3 linked regions of the Homo sapiens genome follow. The protein of the gene in region 2 purifies or fractionates together with the protein of the main gene of each other region. This does not show direct contact. Each region holds a gene or a part of one and is shown on either strand. Other genes may lie near its edges.

What was found. The genes of interacting proteins can lie anywhere in the genome.
Region 1: the proteins of TRIM44 (region 2) and ANKRD30B purify together in Homo sapiens (affinity purification with mass spectrometry, with the first as the bait; 2 studies listed by BioGRID). This does not show direct contact.
Region 3: the proteins of TRIM44 (region 2) and DACH2 purify together in Homo sapiens (affinity purification with mass spectrometry; 2 studies listed by BioGRID and IntAct, with this or other methods). This does not show direct contact.

Annotation. Positions count from the first base shown.
Region 1 is NC_000018.10:14,743,973-14,751,189, forward strand, and holds the start of ANKRD30B (ankyrin repeat domain-containing protein 30B), read left to right. Parts: upstream 1-4,199; 5' UTR 4,200-4,447; coding exon 4,448-4,668; intron 4,669-7,217.
Region 2 is NC_000011.10:35,812,757-35,818,521, reverse strand, and holds the end of TRIM44 (tripartite motif-containing protein 44), read right to left. Parts: 3' UTR 515-5,765; downstream 1-514. UniProt on the Homo sapiens protein: May play a role in the process of differentiation and maturation of neuronal cells. May regulate the activity of TRIM17. Is a negative regulator of PAX6 expression.
Region 3 is NC_000023.11:86,144,495-86,151,468, reverse strand, and holds the start of DACH2 (dachshund homolog 2), read right to left. Parts: upstream 3,019-6,974; 5' UTR 2,849-3,018; coding exon 2,361-2,848; intron 1-2,360. UniProt on the Homo sapiens protein: Transcription factor that is involved in regulation of organogenesis. Seems to be a regulator for SIX1 and SIX6.

The sequences.
Region 1 (7,217 bases), on a different chromosome or scaffold from region 2:
AATGTAACCAGAAAATGACCCTTGAGATCCTTGAGAGTGATTATGTAAACATATCCTTGATTTGGTGTCTCCAGCCTAATTATCACAGTTAAAATTTTGGTATTAAAAATGGAGCAAAGATAATAAGACTTGTAAAGCAGCAGACCTTACAAAATGTTAAAAACAATTTTATTTACGTAGTGCCTCCACACAGACCTAATTATATGTATTAAACCTAATGTTTAACATTATTAGCGAGTCAGAGAATTTAGAAAAATCAGACATAATTTTAGATAAAATAAATATTAATACTAGTCATTAATATTAATCCCTGTTTGATAAAATGACTCTATATGAAAATAACTGCCCTCAAATTACTTTCATCTCACATATTTTTAATGAAAGGAAATGGTGGCTGGGGGCAGTGGCTCACACCTGTAATAACAACACTTTGGGAGGCCAAGGCCGCAGATCACTTGAGATCAGGAGTTCAAGACCAACCTGGCCAACCAGGTGAAACTCCATCTTTACTAAAAATACAAAAGTTAGCTGGTTGTGGTGGTGGGTGTAATCCTAGCTACTCGGGAGGCTAAGGCAGGAGAATCACTTGAACACAGGAGGTGGAGGGTGCAGTGAGCCAAGATCGTGCTACTGCACTTCAACCTTTGCAAGAGATCAAAACTCTGTCTCAATAAATAAATAAATAAATAAATAAATAAATAAGGAGATGGTATGGAATCATTATTAATGTTGGGCCCCTCATGTTAGCTAATATGTTTAAACCTAGGTCAAGATAGAAACTGACCCAGATTATTAGCATGTTTCAGTGCATAATATTTTAAAATAATTCAACACTGACACATAATACTATGCTATTCCACTTAGATATAAAAAAATGGCAAGAGAAGTCTCATGTTCTTGTCCCGGCATGGTGACTTACACCTGTAATCCTAGCACTTTGGGAAGCCAAGTGGGGAGGATCCCTTGAGGCCAGAAGTTTGAAACCAGACTGGGCAACATAGTGAGACCTATCTCTACAGAAAATTTAAAAACTAGATGGGCGTTGTGGCAAGCACCTGTAGTCCCAGCTACTGGGGAGGCTGAGGTGGGAGAATTGCTTTTCCCAGGAGTTCCAGGCTACAGGGAGCTATGATCACATCACTGCACCCCAGCCTCCGTAATACAGTGAGACCCTGTCTCTTAAACAAAAACAAAAAATAATCCCAGAATTCTAATGTTCTTATATGATACAGGACTTTTAAAAATTAGCCAGGCATGGTGGCCCATGCCTGTAGTCCCGGCTACTTGGAAGGCTGAGGCACGAGAATCACTTGAGCCTGGGAGGCGGAGGTGGCAGTGAGTCGAGATCACGCCACTATACTCCAGCCTGGATGGTAGAGTGAAACTCTGTCTCAAAATAAATAAATGAGTGAAAGTACACCGAAAGTTTTAACTTAACAAATTTTATTTACGCCTCACATTGATGGAGTGACAAGAACAAATAAGTAATACTAATGAAGGTATAGGATATTTTACAATTTTTTAAAAATTAGACCCTTATATACACAAAGTAATTGAATTTTTTTTTTTTTTTTTTTTTTTTTTTTTTTGAGACGGAGTCTCGCTCTGTCACCAGGCTGGAGTGCAGTGGTGCGATCTCGGCTTGCTGCAACCTTCGCCTCCTGGGTTCAAGCAATTCTCCTGCCTCAGCCTCTCGAGTAGCTGGGACTACAGGCACGCGCCACCACGCCCGGCTAATTTTTTGTATATTTAGTAGAGACGGGGTTTCACCATGTTGGCCACGATGGTTTCCATCTCTTGACCTCGTGATCCACCTGCCTGGGCCTCCCAATGTGCTGGGATTACAGGTGTGAACCACCACGCTCAGCTGCAAAGTGATTTAAATTTATCAACAATTTTAATGCAAAATTTTTGTCATTTGTGATATTTTCCAATAGCTTATCCGAATTCCTTAGAATCAGATTTCAAAATAAGATTCCCAAGTCAGATTTCTTTGAAATTACAATCCGAAAATATTTAGATTTTAGAAAGGTAATGTGGTAAATATTCTGCCTATTATGGAATAACTCTAATGGCAAATCATATGAATAATCACATGAACTGGGATCAATAAGACTATAAATACCCCTGGTCGGGTGCGGTGGCTCACACCTGTAATCCTAGCACTTGGTGAGGTTGAGGCGGGTGGATCACAAGGTCAGGAAGTCGAGACCATCCTGGCTAACACGGTGAAATTCCGTCTCTACTAAAAATACAAAAAATTAGCTGGGCGTGGTGGCAGGCACATGTAGTCCCAGCTACTCGGGAGGCTGAGGCAGGAGAATGAATGGCGTGAACCCAGGAAGTGCAGCTTGCAGTGAGCCAAGATCAAGCCACTGCACTCCAGCCTGGGCGACAGAGCGAGACTCCGTCAATTCACTAGGGATAAAAGTCAGAAGAACAGAAATTGTGAGTTCCTTTGTGAAGATCCAAGGACCTTCAAGGACCTCTGAATAGCCAAGAATAATCATTCCTGTTTTTCATCTTCAATGGATAAAAGAGCCCATTATACCTTTCTAGCCTATTCTGGAATAAGTAACAATGAAATTTTATTTAGTGTAAACTAACAAAGAAAACAGAGTAAGTTAATGAAATGTAGTCTCTACAACTTGTTAGACTGTTTATTTTTTATTTGTTTTTTATTTTTAGTTGGACTTTGTTTTTGAGACGGAATCTCGCTCTGTCACCCAGTCTGGAGGGCAAGGGCTTGATCTCGGCTCACTGCAACCTCTGCTTCTCAGGTTCTAGTGATGCTCCCTGCCTCAGTCTCCCTAGTAGCTGGGATTACAGGCGCACACCACCACGCCCAGCTATTTTTAGTAAAGACAGGGTTTCGCCATGTTGGCCAGGCTGGTCTCCAACTCCTGACCTCAGGTGATCTGCCCGCTTCAACCTCCCAAAGTGCTGGGATTACAGGCTTGAGTCACGGCACCAGGCAACATGCTAATTTTTGTATGTGTGGTAGAGACGGGGTTTCACTCCATGTTGGCCAGGCAGGTCTCCACCTCGATCTCAGGTGATCCACCGGACTCGGCCTCCCAAAATACTGGGATTACAGGCCAGAGTCACCGCGACCGGCCTGCGTCCATGTTACTTAAAGTACAAAGTAACCTACAAAGTAACCCGCCAGGCGCGGTGGCTCACGCCTGAAATCCCAGCATTTTCAGAGGCCGAGGCAGGCGAATCACCTGAGGTCGGGAGTTGCCGAGACCAGCCTGACCAACATGGAGAAACCCCGTCTCTACTAAAAAAAAAAAAAAAAAAAAAAAAAAAAAAAATTAGCCAGCATGGTGGCACATACCTGTAATCCCGGCTACTCAAGAGGCTGAGGCAGGAGAATCGCTTGAACCTGGGAGGCGGAGGTTGTTGCAGTGAGCCGAGATCGCACCATTGCACTGTAGCCTGGGCGTCAAGAGCCAAACTCCGTCTCAAGAAAAAAAGATTACATCCTGGCACGGTGGTTCATGCCTGTAGTGGCAGCAGCGGTGGCAACCCCAGAACCTGTCCGTGCCACCAGCAGCGGGGAACCCCAGGGTCGGACGCCGCCACTGCGCCTAAATCAGGCGGTGGGACCTCAGCTGTGTGAGGGCGGGAACCTGCCGCAAAGCCTCATCCTGGCAACTATACATGGCCCAGAGGTCGCGAGCCTGCGCTGCCAGCGCGGGCCAAGGAAGAGCAGAGCCCAGGGTGGAAGGGCGGTGCACTCGGCGACCCTCAGCGGTCTGGGCCCAGCCCTGCAGCCTCCACCGTGGACTCAGGTGCAGCTCCCACCTGAACATGGCACGCGGCAGCGGGGGCTCCAACCCGGACCCTGTCCGTGCCAGCAGCAGGGCGGATACTTGGGCCAGAAGCTTCCAGGGCGCCTAAGTGAGGGGGTCGGTCCCCAGCTGCAGGAGGGCGGGAATCGACGCTCAGCGCGGCCCTGGAGGCTGCACGGTGCCCAGTACCAGGGTCCAGCTCCTGGATCGCGGGTCGAGGAGGGGCCAGGGGCGGCTATGTCAAGCAGGCCGTGTTGCAGGGAGCCCCACACGTTCCGCTCCAGGGAGGCCCGCCAGCCCGGCAGCGCCTCAGCGGCCGGTGCCACCTGCACGCGGTGCCCGGTGGAGCGCGGCCAGGGCGCGTGTCTCCTCAGCCTGCTGAGCTGCGCGTGAGCTGCTGCTGTAACGCTCTAACGTTAGAGCAGCTAACGGCTCTGCTCAGAATTTCTCCCGACAGAGGCCGGAGTGTTCAAGAGCTTGGCGATACAGAAATTTCTGCTGGTGTTGGGGCGGGTGCGGGAACTGAAGACGGGCGAGTGCGAGCCGGGGGCGGGTGCTGGGGAAGGGTAAGCGGGAAGCGAGGGCGAGGGGTAGGGGCTGGGGAAGGGCGAGCGGGAGGCGCGGGCTCTCTCTAGCAGGGGGCTGCAGCCATGAAGAGGCTCTTAGCTGCCGCTGGCAAGGGCGTGCGGGGCCCGGAGCCCCCGAACCCCTTCAGCGAACGGGTCTACACTGAGAAGGACTACGGGACCATCTACTTCGGGGATCTAGGGAAGATCCATACAGCTGCCTCCCGGGGCCAAGTCCAGAAGCTGGAGAAGATGACAGTAGGGAAGAAGCCCGTCAACCTGAACAAAAGAGATATGAAGAAGAGGTACCAGGCCCTGCCTGAGCCGGGGCTGCAGGAGGAGGAGGCGGCTGTGGGAGGATCGCCCCTTCAGAGTGGTGGCTGGGGGTCCTGGGGACGAGGGGAGCAGGTGGAGGAGTGGCGGGCGATGGGGCGGCCGTCCTGGGCCCCGAGGTCTTGGCCTTCTTCCCGGTCAGGCCCCCCAGGCCTGGGATGGGGGCGCCCTGCAGGGCAGAGGGCACAGGCCACCTTAAAATCAACCCCAAGCTTTAGCTGCTTTCTCCTTCACTCCCACTTCCCCTCACAAAGCACTCTGTAGAAAATTTTAAAGTGATTAAACTCACAAAATTAAGTACATACAGGGTTTTACTTTTAATGTACAGGTTTTAAAAGATAATGTTAGATACACTATGAAATGGTGCATAATGAACTAATTCCCATAATATATGACCTTCTTGGCTAAAAATTCTTTGGATAAAGTCCAATGTCCATTTTGATATCAATGAATGTCTATGTAAATATGTTCTTTGCTGAGGGACCTTAGAAGGAAACTTCGAGGTGGGAAGATAGTTTATGTTCTTGAATTTAAGAAGACTCATTTTTCTCAAGATGCGACTTACCAGTTTTACATAAACCAAATAAAGCTATTAACGTTTTAACATTTTTTAAATTACACAGGCTTTTACTGTTGTGATGACATTTTAAATATTTTGTAATGGAGTAGAAAAGTCTTGCCCTTCTAGATATCAAAATGCGCTATTAATTTGCACAAAATGGGCCAGGAGCGGTGGCTCACGCCTGTAATCCCAGCACTTTGGGCGGCCGAGGCGGGTGGATCATCTGAGGTCAGGAGTTCAAGACCAGCCTGGCCAATATGGTGAAACACCGTCTCTACAAAAATACAAAAATTAGCTGGGCCTGATGTCGGGTGCCTGTAATCCCAGCTACTTGGGAGGCTGAGGCGGGAGAATTGCTTCAACCTGGTAGGTGGAGGTTGCAGTGAGCCGAGATCCCACCATTGCAATCCAGCCTAGGTGACAGAGTGAGACTCTGTCTCAAAAAAAAAAAAAAAAAAAAAAAAAAAAAAAATCACAGATTGTTTGCTAACAGCTGAAAAGACAGGTAAATGAATACAACAGAATAGAAAATCCAGAAACACCCAAACATATGTAAGAATTTAGAACTTGATAATGATCACAAGGATCATTATCCTTGTGGAAAAGAATTAGTTTCATAATTCTTTTAGGAATATGAATTATTAGGAAAAGAATTAGTTTCATAAGTGAAATGCCTGCTTTTTGGAGAAAACTAGATTTTTATGGCACAAAATAAGTTCCTGATGGAATATAGATTAAAAATTTTTAATATACAAAAAGATAAAAATACCAGAAAAAACATAAATGCCTATTTACACAGATACATTTTTATGTTGACAAAACCTTTCTAAGAAGCTCAGAAGCAAGCATTCTGAAGAGTAATTTAGTAAAACAAAAATTAAATCACCCTGCATATGAGAAAAAATAAAAGGCAGCATACTTGTAAAATATTTACTACTCATGTATGTGTGTGTGTGTATACATATTAGAATTAAAAATCTTCCTTTTATAGAGAATTCACTCAAATCAACAGAAAACCCTCTAATTTAAAATTGGGCAATTTAAGTTAGAGATCTAAATTGCAGATCTAAAAAAGTACTTGGCCTCTAATTTAAAACTGGGCAAAGTCCTTTTTTAAGATCTGCAAGTAACCTATGCACACAGGAAACAATATTAGTGTTCCTGGTTAGAGAAGGCATTTAAGTTAAAAGAGGAATCAAATACTGTTTTCTATCCACAAAGTTTGTGAGGATAAAAAGCAGTGATATTTATAGTACTCCTTAAAGTGTAAGTTGCAGATGAGTTTTCAAATAAACAATTTGATGGTAAGTACCATATTTAAAAAATTGTATATGCCCATTAGTGATCCATTCTATTATACTAAAATATTTTTAGAAAATAATGCAACATACACACAATTTCTTTTCTGAGCACTGCTTAAAATATCAATGTATTAAAAAGAATCCATTTAATGGCTTTTATAAATACATTTCAGTGAGTTTACAGCATGGGATAATATGTGACCACTCAAGGTAGAAACATATACGGAAGTATGTTGACATTTGAAAATGTATTTTGGTGTACCAAGTGAGGGTAAAATTCAGTTTGATTATACATACAGACTATGGTCTTGTGTTATCTGAAATTATGTCCAAAATTTGATAACATTTGCTATTTGAGGATACTTGTTTTAATATAAAATGTTTTTCCTTTTTTTATCTTTGATTTCTGCATTGAGCATGTACGATGCTATTAGTAAAAGTTTATTATTAATGAAATAATTTTTGGGAGGAGCAGCAATATGTATTTTGCACAGATGAAAATAATTTCTCACTTTCTATATTTTATTTTTTTGTGCATTTGTATATTCTGTGAACTTTTAGCATCTTCAGAAGAGAATATTTTTATCTCTGCTTATTGATTTACATATACATTTTATTAAACACATTTTTATTATATATAGGCTTATTACATATATGT
Region 2 (5,765 bases):
CTGAACGTTAATGTCTGTGCAAGTCCTGAGACAGAGAATTGCAGCCTATCAAACTCTTCCCTTTAGAATCAAGGGAGAAACCTTGGGATGTCTCCTAGAATGTTCTAATGTGGGCTCTTGAGTCACTAAACAGACATTCTCTTCTGGGATGCAGTGGTCAAATATGGAGAACTCAGCTTTCCCAATAGCCAGGTGACCTTAAGCAAATCCTTGAATCTCTTTGGGCCTTTGTTCTCTCAACAGTTAACTCAGGAAGAGTTAGATTCATCTCTAAATCAGTGTTTCCTAAAATTGTTACACAGAACTGCCAGAAAACTAGAAAATTGTTACATGAAAGCTCTACAATGCACGTGAACATATTAAAAGCTCCCAGAAATTCTACAGGGAAGAAACCTATTTAACTTTGTTTGGCCCACTGTTTTGCTTCCCAGTTTATTTGACTGTGGTACATTTTTTTTTTTCGTGGTGTATTAGTCCGTTCTTTCACTGCTATAAAGAAACACCTGAGACTGCATAATTCATAAAGAGGTTTAATTGGCTCACAGTTCTGCAGGCTGCACAGCAAGCATGATGCTGGCATCTGCTCAGCTTCTAGGGAGGCTTCAGGAAACTTACAATCATGGTGGAAGGCAAAGGGGGAGTGAGCACTTTACATGGCCAGAGCAGAAGGAAGGTGGGGGGAGGTGTCACATATTTTTAAACAACCAGATCTCACAAGAACTCACTATCATGACAACAAAGGGCGGATGTTGTTAAATCATGAGAAAACTCCCCCATGATCCAATCTTCCCACCAGGTCCCACCTCCAGCATTGGGGATTACATTTCAACATGAGATTTGGGTGGGGACACAGAGGCAAACCATATCACATGGCTTGTGCACATTTGGAGCAGTACTAGTCTCCATGAAGTCTACATATGGATTCAGCTTTCCTTGTATAGCTTCCACACACATGCATACACACCCACAGACACACACAAATGCTAACACACACGGAGAGAAAAAAGATGACTTGGGACTCTTAGAGGAACAATTTTTCTGTTATCACTGTCCTTTTTACTTTGCTAAGATCTTACCGTGTTAGAGGTGGAAGAGAAAAGAGAGATCCTCCAATGTCTCTGACCCTACCCGTCATTTTAGGCGCATGTAGAGAGAGAACATGATGTGCCAAATGCCACACAACTTGTCAGTGGCAGAGCAGGGATGGGAGTGAGGCTTCTCAACTCTCTTCCCTCTTTTCATGGGAAAAGAAGGTGCCTTTTGGTGGTGCCACCTGCTTTGGACACTCATTCTGGGGTAGATGTAGCTAAAGGTATCTTTCAGTTTTCTGCATGAAGATATAATATCTGGAGTACCTCTGGATATGGGCATTATCAAGATGTCAGTCAGTTTAAGTCCATAAATTTGAACATCTACTCTGTCAGGCGACTTTGTCATCATTAGTAATATAGGAGCAAACGACTAATACAACCTTCAAAGAGTTACAGACATCAACCTTATGAACAAGTAAATACATACGGTAATTTGAGGTACTTACCGTTGATATGAAAAAGTACATGGGGATGTGGTACAGAGGGCTATGAAACAGCCATGGGGAGCATCTAGAGGTGAGCAGAGCAGCTCAGTGAGGGGCAACATGAAGGTGGCTCCATCTACTGAATCTCTAACAGGACTCCAGCACAACAGTCAGAAGCTACCATTTCTAAGTGCTTACTATGTGTCAGGCACTGTACTAAGCCCTGTAGACCATCTGCTCATTTAATTGTTCAGAGTTAGTAAAGAACAAAGCCAGTACTAAAACCAAGTCTGTATGCTTCTAAAACCTAGTATCAGGAGCAAGCTTGTCCCATTTTCCAAAGACAGAAGACGGCACATTGCTCTTTTTTGTGAAGATGCAACACTAGGGTCAAGTGGTTCACAATGTTAACAGTTTCCTCCCAACAATTTAGTCTAAATTTTACTTTTCACTCCATTCCATTACTCTTAGGTCTACCCTCTAGAGACCCTTCTGTTCCCCAATTACACACATAAAATCAATTACATTGTATTATCTGATGCCAGTTGTGTTTATACTGTAGAAGGCAGAAAAGTGTTTTTATGAGTGGAGATTGTTTTTCCATTCTGTTCCTTCCCAGGGGGGATCTAAATACTCTTTTTGAAGTTAGACATTGTGTGTGGTTTTGGAGCTGAGTTGGGAAGAGGATGGATACGCACCACACCTTATTTATTTTCTCTTCTGTGAAACAGTCTCAGCTGTTTTTTTTTCTCACAAATTCAATTTCTTACTCTTGAAGAATGACCCAAGCTGAGAAATTTCCCAAACATCTGAAATCTGAGAATTTGTGCCTGGAATCCATGAGGCTCATGGTTTCCAGATGGAAAGGCCGGAAGAATAGGAGGCGGAGGAGTAGAGGCAGGGTGGAGTGATAAAAGGGAGGGGGAGCCTGAACTTTGGATCACTTCTGACTGCCTTGTGAACTAGGCCAGGTCCCTTATTTGCTCTGCAAGTCTGCCATTTGACAATGGGCCAGGTCTGAAGATAGACAGCAGTTTTGCATGTCCTCATGAGGCTGTTTCAGTGATTATTAGAAGTAAGTCATTGTAAAATTGTCTTTTTCTGAAGGCAGTGACTGAAAGCAAACAAGCCCATGACTTGGCTATTCAGAGGGGCATAAACACTCCAGATGGATTTTCTCATTGTCCCAGAAATGGCAAAAGACAGACCATTCTAGGAATCCTGGCTTCTTTATACCACTTAAACATATGCAATGGCAGATGCCCCGGTGACCTAATTCTTCCACGTCTTGTCCTCATAATAGAGGTAAGAGAAAGAGATTAACAGGAAAGCTTGTTTTGAGTACATAACAGTCAAGTATAATTTGGCCACAAGTGGGCTAGGTATACTCTCAGAGGAATGCCTTTATTTGATCAGACAGGTCAGAATCTTCCAGGGAAAATATTAATTTGGGGAAAATAGATCAGAACCTACTTGTTATCAAATGGGAAATTGGCTTGAGTGTTGAGAAATACCCATTTTTATTGTTATCAGTGGTTTGTCATCCTCCCCACCTGAAACTACCCTACTGACACTCCCTATTGCCCTACTATCACCAAGTCAAAGAGCAATCTTGTTCCTCTATCATAGTTCTTCCTACTTAGAAGCTGAATTTCATACTAGGATACAGCCATCCAACTGGGTCTAAAAGGTCTCATAATGTGTGGAGAGAAACCAAATATAGAAAAGTTACTTCCAATTAACACCTCTAATCTCCAGATGTCCTAATAAAAACAGTGAGGCAACAAATGGCCACCCTCAAGCCAGAGAACCATACTTGGACTCAAATGTTTTTAAGAGCCAGGGAAAGTAGCTAACCTCCTCTTAATTTGATCTCCTGGCCTGGGACATATAAATGTTTAACTACACTCTGGCTTAGGGAGGAAAGCAAGCAGAGGTGAATGTATCCTGTAGTGGCATGGCTTCAACAGAGCATTTGTCTCACCCTGAAATATGAAGGAGCAATGCCTGCCTCCTCAAGCTGAGCAGTGCCCAGAATTTATGAACTTCAAGTATGATGTGAATCTGGGGTCCGAGCCAGGCATTATCATTGGGAAGTGGTGGACAATTTCCCTCTCCCTCCCTCCTCGTTTTCCTACTGCTGATTGTACTGTTCAGAAGTGAATCATGATTTAATCCCCTCTGCTGTTAAGAGTATTACAAAATGCTGGTTACAATGAAGTCACAAAAGTATTTACATAAAAGAAAAAAGACGGACAGAGAATGTTATAGCAAGTGACAAAACTCATCATTACCACCAGCAAAAAGATAGGTATGGAAAAATCCTTGCCTGGGTACCAAATGGGATGCAGCTGATTTAGACCATCTCTATATATAATCAGCGTGGCACATGTTTTTACAGTCATGCAGTGTTGAAAGCAGTGCATCATGGGAGAAAAGATAGTTCTAGTCACATGCATCTGGGTTTTTAAATCTTAGCGTCATCAGATCAGGGCCAGGTTACCCCAGAGTGCTCAATAATCCATGAGAAATGAATCCTATCTTCGTTCCAGGGCTTAGTATTGGCATTACACCATTATTAGATGCAAGCAATTCTTTGATTGATGGCTCCAACATGGATTAAGGTCAAAAGTGGCCCTGGAGACCAAATTCCCTAGTGAGGAACTGCCACATAACTTCATGTGTCTTTTGCTTCTGAATTATTTCTTCTAGAAACCACCAACCACAAGCTGTCACGCTGGTATTATATCTACATAACGTTTATTCTTCTTACAGCAAAGAGCTGGAGAAATACAAGTGAGAACCTGTTATTACAGGTTAAATTGTGTAACACTCAACTTGCGCTGAGGTCCAGTTTCTTTTTATTATGCTCCAATTTTGTTGAATGACTATTGCCTAAAATAAATGGGCAATCGACAGGGGCTTAGAACTAACAGGGATGCTTAAGTGACTTTTATGGTAGCAGTATTTGTTGTAACAGAATTTGATCTGTATTCTAGTTATTAGTTTTATTCATCACATTGGAAAGTTGGCACCTCCACTGTTCATGCCATTATATGCAAAGCACTGTAGCATGAAAGTCACTTACAAAGCTGTGAAAAAAACTCTCTGAACACCAGAGGCTCATGAAACAATAAAAGTCAGCTAGGGGGATATACACTGTTTGATTTAGCTAAATATTCTGGATGGTCAAAGGTTTATTCCTTTTAATTCCTAAAAGTTTTTTTTTTTAACCATTGGGATGTAAATATTTCTAAAATGTTTGATATACATATTTTTGTCTTCTAAGCATAGTTTTTTTATGTATGGTGCACAGGGTCATCATTTTAAATAGAATATTGTCCCATGATACAGTGAGGCTCTTAAAGATTGAGATGTGTATAGACTGTTTTTGACACTAAATAACCCATATATCAGGGCTTTGGAGCTTTGCAGTCTACTCAAAATTTCCATTTTCTCTATTGCTGTCCTCCTTTTTCCTTCTTGTTTCCTCTAAAAGTCTGTTTCTTTCCTTTACAGTTAGAAATATGTGTGAAGGAAGAGCAAATAGGTTCTGAGGAGGTGCCTGATGACTAGATGTATGGCCTTTGTCTTATGCGTTTGCTTCATGGTATTTATTTCAATTGGTTGGAAGCCTTGTTTGCTTACTTCTTAATTCTCAGTCACTTTTGATGGGTTCAGCAGAGGTTCTAGATTTTTCTAGTTCTGTCTCAGTTACTCATTGTCAAACCACTGGTTTAGATTTTGTGTTCAGGAAATAGGGATAGGTAAAGCTATCAGGTGGCTAAGCCCTAGGTAAATGAGTTGCCATGAATCCTAAAATATTGTGAAGGTTGTGGGCCATTTTTATAAGGCAAATGGTATGCTGTGGCCGTGACAGCTGAACTCAGTAAGTGAACTTTAAAACAGATAAGCTCCTTTTGCTGTTGTCCCTTTCCAAGAATATGAAGCTGGCCTGACGTCAAGCTGTTGGAGAGCCTTCAACATGTTTAATTAAATCACAGACTCAGTGTCAGAGCTGGCTGACTTTCAGGATTCTAACGCTATAGCAAAAGAAGACATGGTTTTGCCTCTCGTTGATTTTCTTATTTATGGCCTTGGAATAAAGAAGATAAAGCAAGTCTAACAGTTCTCCCTTCCAAAAGTACAGTTTCAGGCCAGAAGATTTGACTGCTACCCTTAGACTTTCTTTCCCTCACTGTACATTGCATTTTACAGGCTATACAAAGCAAGACCTTCTTTGCAAAAG
Region 3 (6,974 bases), on a different chromosome or scaffold from region 2:
TTCATAAATTTTTACAATTAATAAAATTGCAATACTTGTAACACAGTTTTAAAATATGAATATAATAAACCAAATACCCGTAAAGAAAAGAAAATGCAATAGAAGCCACATGAATCACATCACAGATCTATTTCTTCCTACATATTTAATATTTCTCTATCACCTTTATACACACACATACACAAAAGCAATTCACACACATGAAAAGTTACTATTGCTGTGATAAGCAGTAAATAAAAGCTAATTAGATAAAATAATAACCTAAAAATACATGGTATAACAGGGTCCAAAAATATTACAAGATCACCTGCCTCTGGATTTTTTTTTTTAGTAAGTAGCTCTAATAAAAATTAGGAAAAGTTTCCATTTATAGAGAAAAGTATCAAAATCATATTAAAATACTAATCTATTTATTTGAAAATCATGGTCATAGGTTTTTCTCAAGAATGTGCAAATTAATTGAGGAAGGAAGAATTTCCTAAGTGTAATAATTGTTCCACTTTAAGAATGGGCATTTTTAGAGATGGGAGAGGGGGAAGAGAGAAAGAACAGGGATGGAGAGATGAGAGACTGATAAAGAGAGAGAGTTAATAAGAGAATAGGTTTTCATGTCTGCAATTATTTAAATGTTTGAGTGTTTTTGGATGGCAACAAATGAATTAGATGGCCACTATCTGAAGTCCCTTGTAACCTTTTTAGTTTGTGTACTAATAAAATGCTTTGTAGTCGAAATAAAATTGTCTTTTTACTCTTACAATCCATAATTGCCTGTTTTATTGAGGGAGCTGTTATCCTTTGTGTTTTCAGGCCATCTATCTTCCTTAAGAAAAGCTGATATAATAAACCAGCTTTGTAAGCCCTAAATATGAATCAGGTAGGAGTTCTCACATAAATAGTTTTCTGTTTAATTGCTTGAACACAGAAAAACACTGCTCAATTGAAGAAAAAAAAGAAGAAGGAAAAAGCTTCCCTTGTAAGTTCTGCAGCATTATCTTATTGCAGCAGTAAGCAACAGTTTGCCTACAAGTTGTCAGTATCATTCAACTATACATGGCAATTTGGATTTTACAACAGATGTGGCAAACTGTTACAGTTTTAGTTCACAGACCCAGAGATTTTATGATTTAAAGTTCATTTTGAGAAAGTTGTTGGTTTTTTATTTTATTTTTGCAAAATAATAAGCAGTAGTGCTGTTTTACAACAAAATCCTTTGCTCCTTTTAACCACGTGATGGTGATTTTTGTGCCAAATCTGTGCTTTCCTGAGATGTTACCAAACTGGAGATGGAATAAACACTAGAAGACTAATTCACAGGCGTTTAAAAAGTCAGATAATCTTGAGTATACTTTTTTTCTTTTTAAACTCAGAAACATTGAACACAATTTGCTTCTCATATACAAATGGACATTTATTCACTAGTGTACTTCTAAACTGTGATATGAAGGAGGTACACTTACAACCAGGGAAGCTGGCCATCATCATTTAAGGAATCCTGTCTTTAAGGGAATGGGATCCTTCCAACTGTTCGCCTGGAAGAGCTGAGAGCATCCTCTCTAGAAATCTGCCAACTTGTACACCAACCTCCAATCCAGTCCCAGCCACAGTGGTTCATGCCCCACATTGCCCTCTGCAGATAACCCAAAACGGACGATCCCAGGAAAGTGATATTTGTCGTCGTCCTTTTGTAAAAATAGTATCCATCGACTTTCCTGTATCGTGTACTGGGGAGCTTTGCGCAGCAAGCATGAGCATACGTTCTCACGCGCACTTGCACACATACACACCAACACCACCACAAACAACAACACCACACACCCCACACATTCTCACAACAAACACACGGGATGGGGATCGAATCACCCTCTGGGATGGATTCTAGACTTCCCACCCCCTGCATGCCCCAAATGCTGTGTTCTGGCTTGCCAGCTTAGGAGCCCAGTTTACAGCTCAGCCAGCCCCCAGAGAAAGCCCTTGGTATCCGTGTTCAGAAGAAAACCTATCCGACCCGTGCGGCCACAAAAGAGCAGGAAAGAAAACCAAATAGAGAAATTAACAAATAACCACGAACAGCCAAAAGCCATGCAAGATATGGGCAAAAGGCTGGAAAGTTTCAATAGAGGACTGCAAACTCAAGTTTGCGGGACTTTTTTAGACCGAAGCCCTTGCACTGAGCGTGGACTAGAAGGCACCAGCATTAATGAAAGCTTCTAGTCCTCTTTCCCCACCGATTTACAGCGTGAAGAATAGAGGCAAACTAGTTAAGACTCACTCTACAAACAAAGTTGGATGAGGGTGGTGAGGCATGCAGAAGAGGCCAAAGGGGTAAGAGAAGTGGGAGAGCCAAGAAACGAGTGTCTCACCTGGCATTGGTGCAATCGGTGAACAAAGTTTCGAAGTCTTTCCTGGTGATGAGTTTGCAGCGGTTTACCCCGGGCTGGATGGCCCCCAGCCCGCGGAGGATCCGGACCTGCTCAACAGTACACACCACGGGGGATATATCCAGTCTCTTCAGCTTGGTGTACACAGTGTGCAAGCCTCCCACCAGGTGCTTGAGAAAAAGATCAAAGACTTGCGGCAGGCAGATCAGTTCCTGGCCGTCCATCAGGAACGAAGCCACCTTCATCCCGTGCATGTCGACCATGCGGCACTCGTTGGTGTTGGTGTTGCCCCTGCCGCCGCCTCCGGCACTGTTGCTGTGGTTATTAACCACGAAACTATTGATCATATTAGGAGTAAGACGAGGGGGCTCTCTGGGAGTCGAGTACAGGGGTTCGGCCCGGAATAAGCCCCCCGGGACGCCGGCGCCGCTGGAAGTTGCAGAGATCACTGGAGATGCGGAGACAGCCATGGTCACTCTGTCTCTATCGTGGGTCCTCCGGCCCTCGCTTTCTCGCCCTGACTCCTCTAGATCCCCTCGCACTCACTCCCTCACTCTCGCTCTCTCTGGCGCGCTCTCGCTGGCTCCGAACTGTTCGCAAGTCTTCAGCAGCCGGCTCACGCTCAAGCTCAACAAACAGTGAGCAGCCCCGACCCGCTGCGGCCCCAGACCCCACCCCCACCACACCCCCTCCGGAGACTGGCAGCGTCCCACAGCCAATGGGCCCCAGCCCTTCTGCGCCCGAGCGCTCCGAATGGCTGCCGCTGGTGAGGAGGTGGAGACTCCCTGGCCGGCGTCCGACTACCTGAGTGGGTCCAGGCTCGACCAAGAACAGAGATCCAGTCCGAGAAGGGGGCGGTGTGGTGCCTCTGCTTCTTGCCTCTCTGCCAGACGAGAGAACTCCCAGATGTCACGCAGAGTTCTCAAAGTGGCCTATGCTGTGAACCCATCCGCTCCGCGCTCCGCTGGTGTCGGGGTGGAAACGCAAAGCGCGACTCCTGAACGTGCCTCCCCATGCCCCTTCCGCCACCTTACACCGGGTTAGATCGTGGAAAGTGAGGTGGCAGCTCCAATTCCACTTGCGCATCTCTCCCAAACTCTGCGGGGGCTAATAGATGGCTTCGCCTAGCTTCCGGGAGAAAGACGCTAGCGAGTTCAGAAGTAAACAGCTCAGCCCTTTAGCCCACCTAAGTGCGCTTGGTGTAAATTTTCCCCTACCCAGCGCGCAGAGGAACAAGCGTCCGAGATCATACTCAGATCAGAGTTCTGGTTGCTAACTCGCACTGACATTCAGGAAGCGTAGTGAGCCTGTGAACACTTTGGGAAACAGAGAGACTTGCTCTGTGGGTGGCAGATGGACACCTCATTTTATGGCACTTCCGCCACTGTCCTGGAAGAGACTTGTCTGTGTCCCCGTCCCTTAGTGTCGAGATTGCCCTGGCCCTACTCCCCGCTAAAATTGATAGGAAATGTTTGTTTAGGACTCAAAACAGTCATCACGGAATATGAGGAAAGGGCGAGGGTTTGCATTCTTGAACGTGCATTTTCCTTCCTCTTCCATTGGCTTTGAAGGTCCAGTGATTGGAGCTCCAGTCCTAAACAAGATTCCACTTCCCCCACTCATCAAGCGTCCCAAACGTACTAAGAGCTTATAGAACAAAATGTCTAAGCAGGGTACATTCCAGGGAAAAGGAATGGTCTTTTCCACACAGCATATGGTGGTTAGATCGCCTTAGCAAAGTTGTTTTTGTTTGTTTTGAGACAGATTCTCACTCTGTCGCCCAGACTAGAGTGCAGTGGCACAGTCTCGGCTCACTGCAGCCTCCGCCTCCGGGGATCAAGCGATTCTCCTGCCTCGGCCGAGTAACTGGGACAACAGGTGCGCGCCACCATGCCTGGCTAATTTATGTATACATATACATATATATATACACACATATACATATATATACATATATATACACACATATACATACTTTTTTTTTTTTTTGTAGAGACAGGGTTTCACCATATTGGCCAGGCTGGTCTCGAACTCCTGACCTCGTGATCCGCCCTCCTCGGCCTCCCAAAGTTCTGGGATTACAGGCGTGAGCCACCGCTCCTGGCCTAGCAAAGTTGTTTTAAGACTCCTTGTCAAGCTATTCATTCTCTAAAACCAAGATATTTCCTTTCCTGTGCTCCTCTTCTCTGGAGGCTGTTAGTTATTCATAAAGTGAAATCCAGGTTTCGTTTCTTTACAAAACGTTACCAACTACATGGCTTATGGTAACTTCTCTGATATTCTTCTAAAATATAAATAATGTTGGAAACTTACTGAATTTTATTCAGCCCTAGTTGTACTTAGCAGGATCAACGAGAAATGTGTGGGTTCTTTTTGCTCCCTTATTTAGTTACAGATACCCTAAATTGGATTTTTCTGCCTCTTTCTACAACATATTTTCTTCTTTTCTCATTTCATCAACCAGGTTTAAGAACTGCCCTTTGAATCTCTTCATACTGTTTCAATTTCAAATTGTACAGGGTTAAAATGCTAAGAAGTTGTGATGATCATTGCTTTCAAAATGCAGTGATATGACTCTAACATAATAGATTGGGATATAGGCAGCCACGAGACATTTTTAAAAGGCATCAAAATGTTTTTGCTACATCGATACTGTTGTGGGAAGAAAGTAATAAGGGGCAAAAAAAGGACAATTGAGAAGAAATAGCAAAGGCAGAAAACGCCTCAACCAAAAGTAGAAGTATCAAAAAAGAATAAAACAGCACTGACAGAAATGTTTGTATTTACCAGTTTTTAAAAAGAGAAATCCCAAATTGTATTCAACAGGTGTTTTGACTGAAATGGCTGTTAAACTATCTGTTGAAATAGCTTGCCTCTGATAACTTATTGTGATTGAAATTTCCAGGTGAATAAGTTTGGCTGTAAAGGATGTTTTATTTTCAAATGGCTCTAATTACGTTAAAAATCCTAAGGCCAAGCTACCCCTTGTATGTAGCTGTGCCCACATTATCAAGGCCTTTTTATTTGCAGAGCAATTTGGGGTTTTCAGCAATAAAACATTGCACAGATATTTTGATGTTTCAAATTTAAGAAATCTGAAATATAAAAAAAGAAAGGCAGATTATTCATTCATGCTGTAATCAGTAATTGTGAAATTGAAGAACAGACATACTTTGACAACTTTAGAAAAGGCACAAATTAAAAGTCATGTGTTTAATGAGATGTATCAGGTTTACAGTAATATTTTAATTATTACTAAAGATTACGGTTCTATTTCTAGCAGAAATACTAGAGACTCAAATTGGCCATTGATCATTGAAAGGTTAAAGTTCTTTGGAAGTTTTCAACACGCAAAAGACCCTCGGTTTCATTATTTGAATTCCTTCTCATTGCAGTCTTCTAGATAAACTTGGTAGCGTTCTTAAGTAACACATGCAATTTAAACATTTAGTCGTTTAGATCTAAGAGAGCAGGTTTTGTCTCCTTTTTTCTTGACTTTTTGATTATTCTATTTTTTATCACTACTATTTCTACTATTACTATCAGTGCTTTGAGATTGAGACAATCAATTTTACACAGAGGGTTTGTTTTTGTCCCTTTCTGATTTTAATGTCTTCCATAAGCCAAACATACTTCTAAACAGGGCTAGGTTTCTACAAGACCAGAGGAAGCCTTTCACATCAACACCCTGTAAGTTTGGAATTGCTTGATGCAATATAAAATCATAAAAAGGTGGCAGTAAACAGAGTACCCTTGGGAGATGACTCTCTATGGAGAGAGGCACTGCATTAAAACTAAGAAAATACTCAAGGTTTGTGAATTAATACAAGACAGGAGCCAACCACCGCAACAAATAACGACAAAATTAGTATAAGCAGGTACCATATCTCATCAGAAGAAGTTCTAATTCCAGTGGAATGATTTGGGGCCTAAGTGTAGTTTCCCATACACTGAAATGCTGTAAACTTCCATGACTTAATTAACAATTTACATTTTATCTTAATTCATACTCAGTTTGGAGGGGAGGGTGCTCATCTGTGATTTTAGGCAAAATATTCTACTTTGACACTGTCAGTAAAATGCAGGTACCATTTTAACTAAAAATTAAAAATACATATATTGGCATGCTTATGCAGCACTGCAAAATATCCAGAACTATTTGAAGGGACTGGTTTTCAGATCAGGCATTCAAGTAAATCCCAAGGTAATAAATGGAATTATTTGAAACCCTCAGCCAACTGAAGTTACAACCTTGAATGTGGCGGCTAATCACAACCTCCCAGGAGACCTCTAAGGTTCACTTTTAGGTAAACAATAAAAGGAAATTGGGCAAGACAATAAATGTAAAATGAAAGCCTTCATATAACTGAGAATTTAAGTGATGAAAGCCTATAGCTATGTATGCATGTATACCCCATTAGGAAACTGGTTATACGATTATCTATAACATCATTTTTTTCATTCAGTTACAATGTTAAATTGAAGATGAATTCCAAGGGAGGCAAAGGTGGAGAAAGGGGACCAGTAGAGCATCAAGAGAATTGGTCAAAACCCAAAGAGTAACAGTTAAAATCCGATACTTAAAGGAAAGATGAA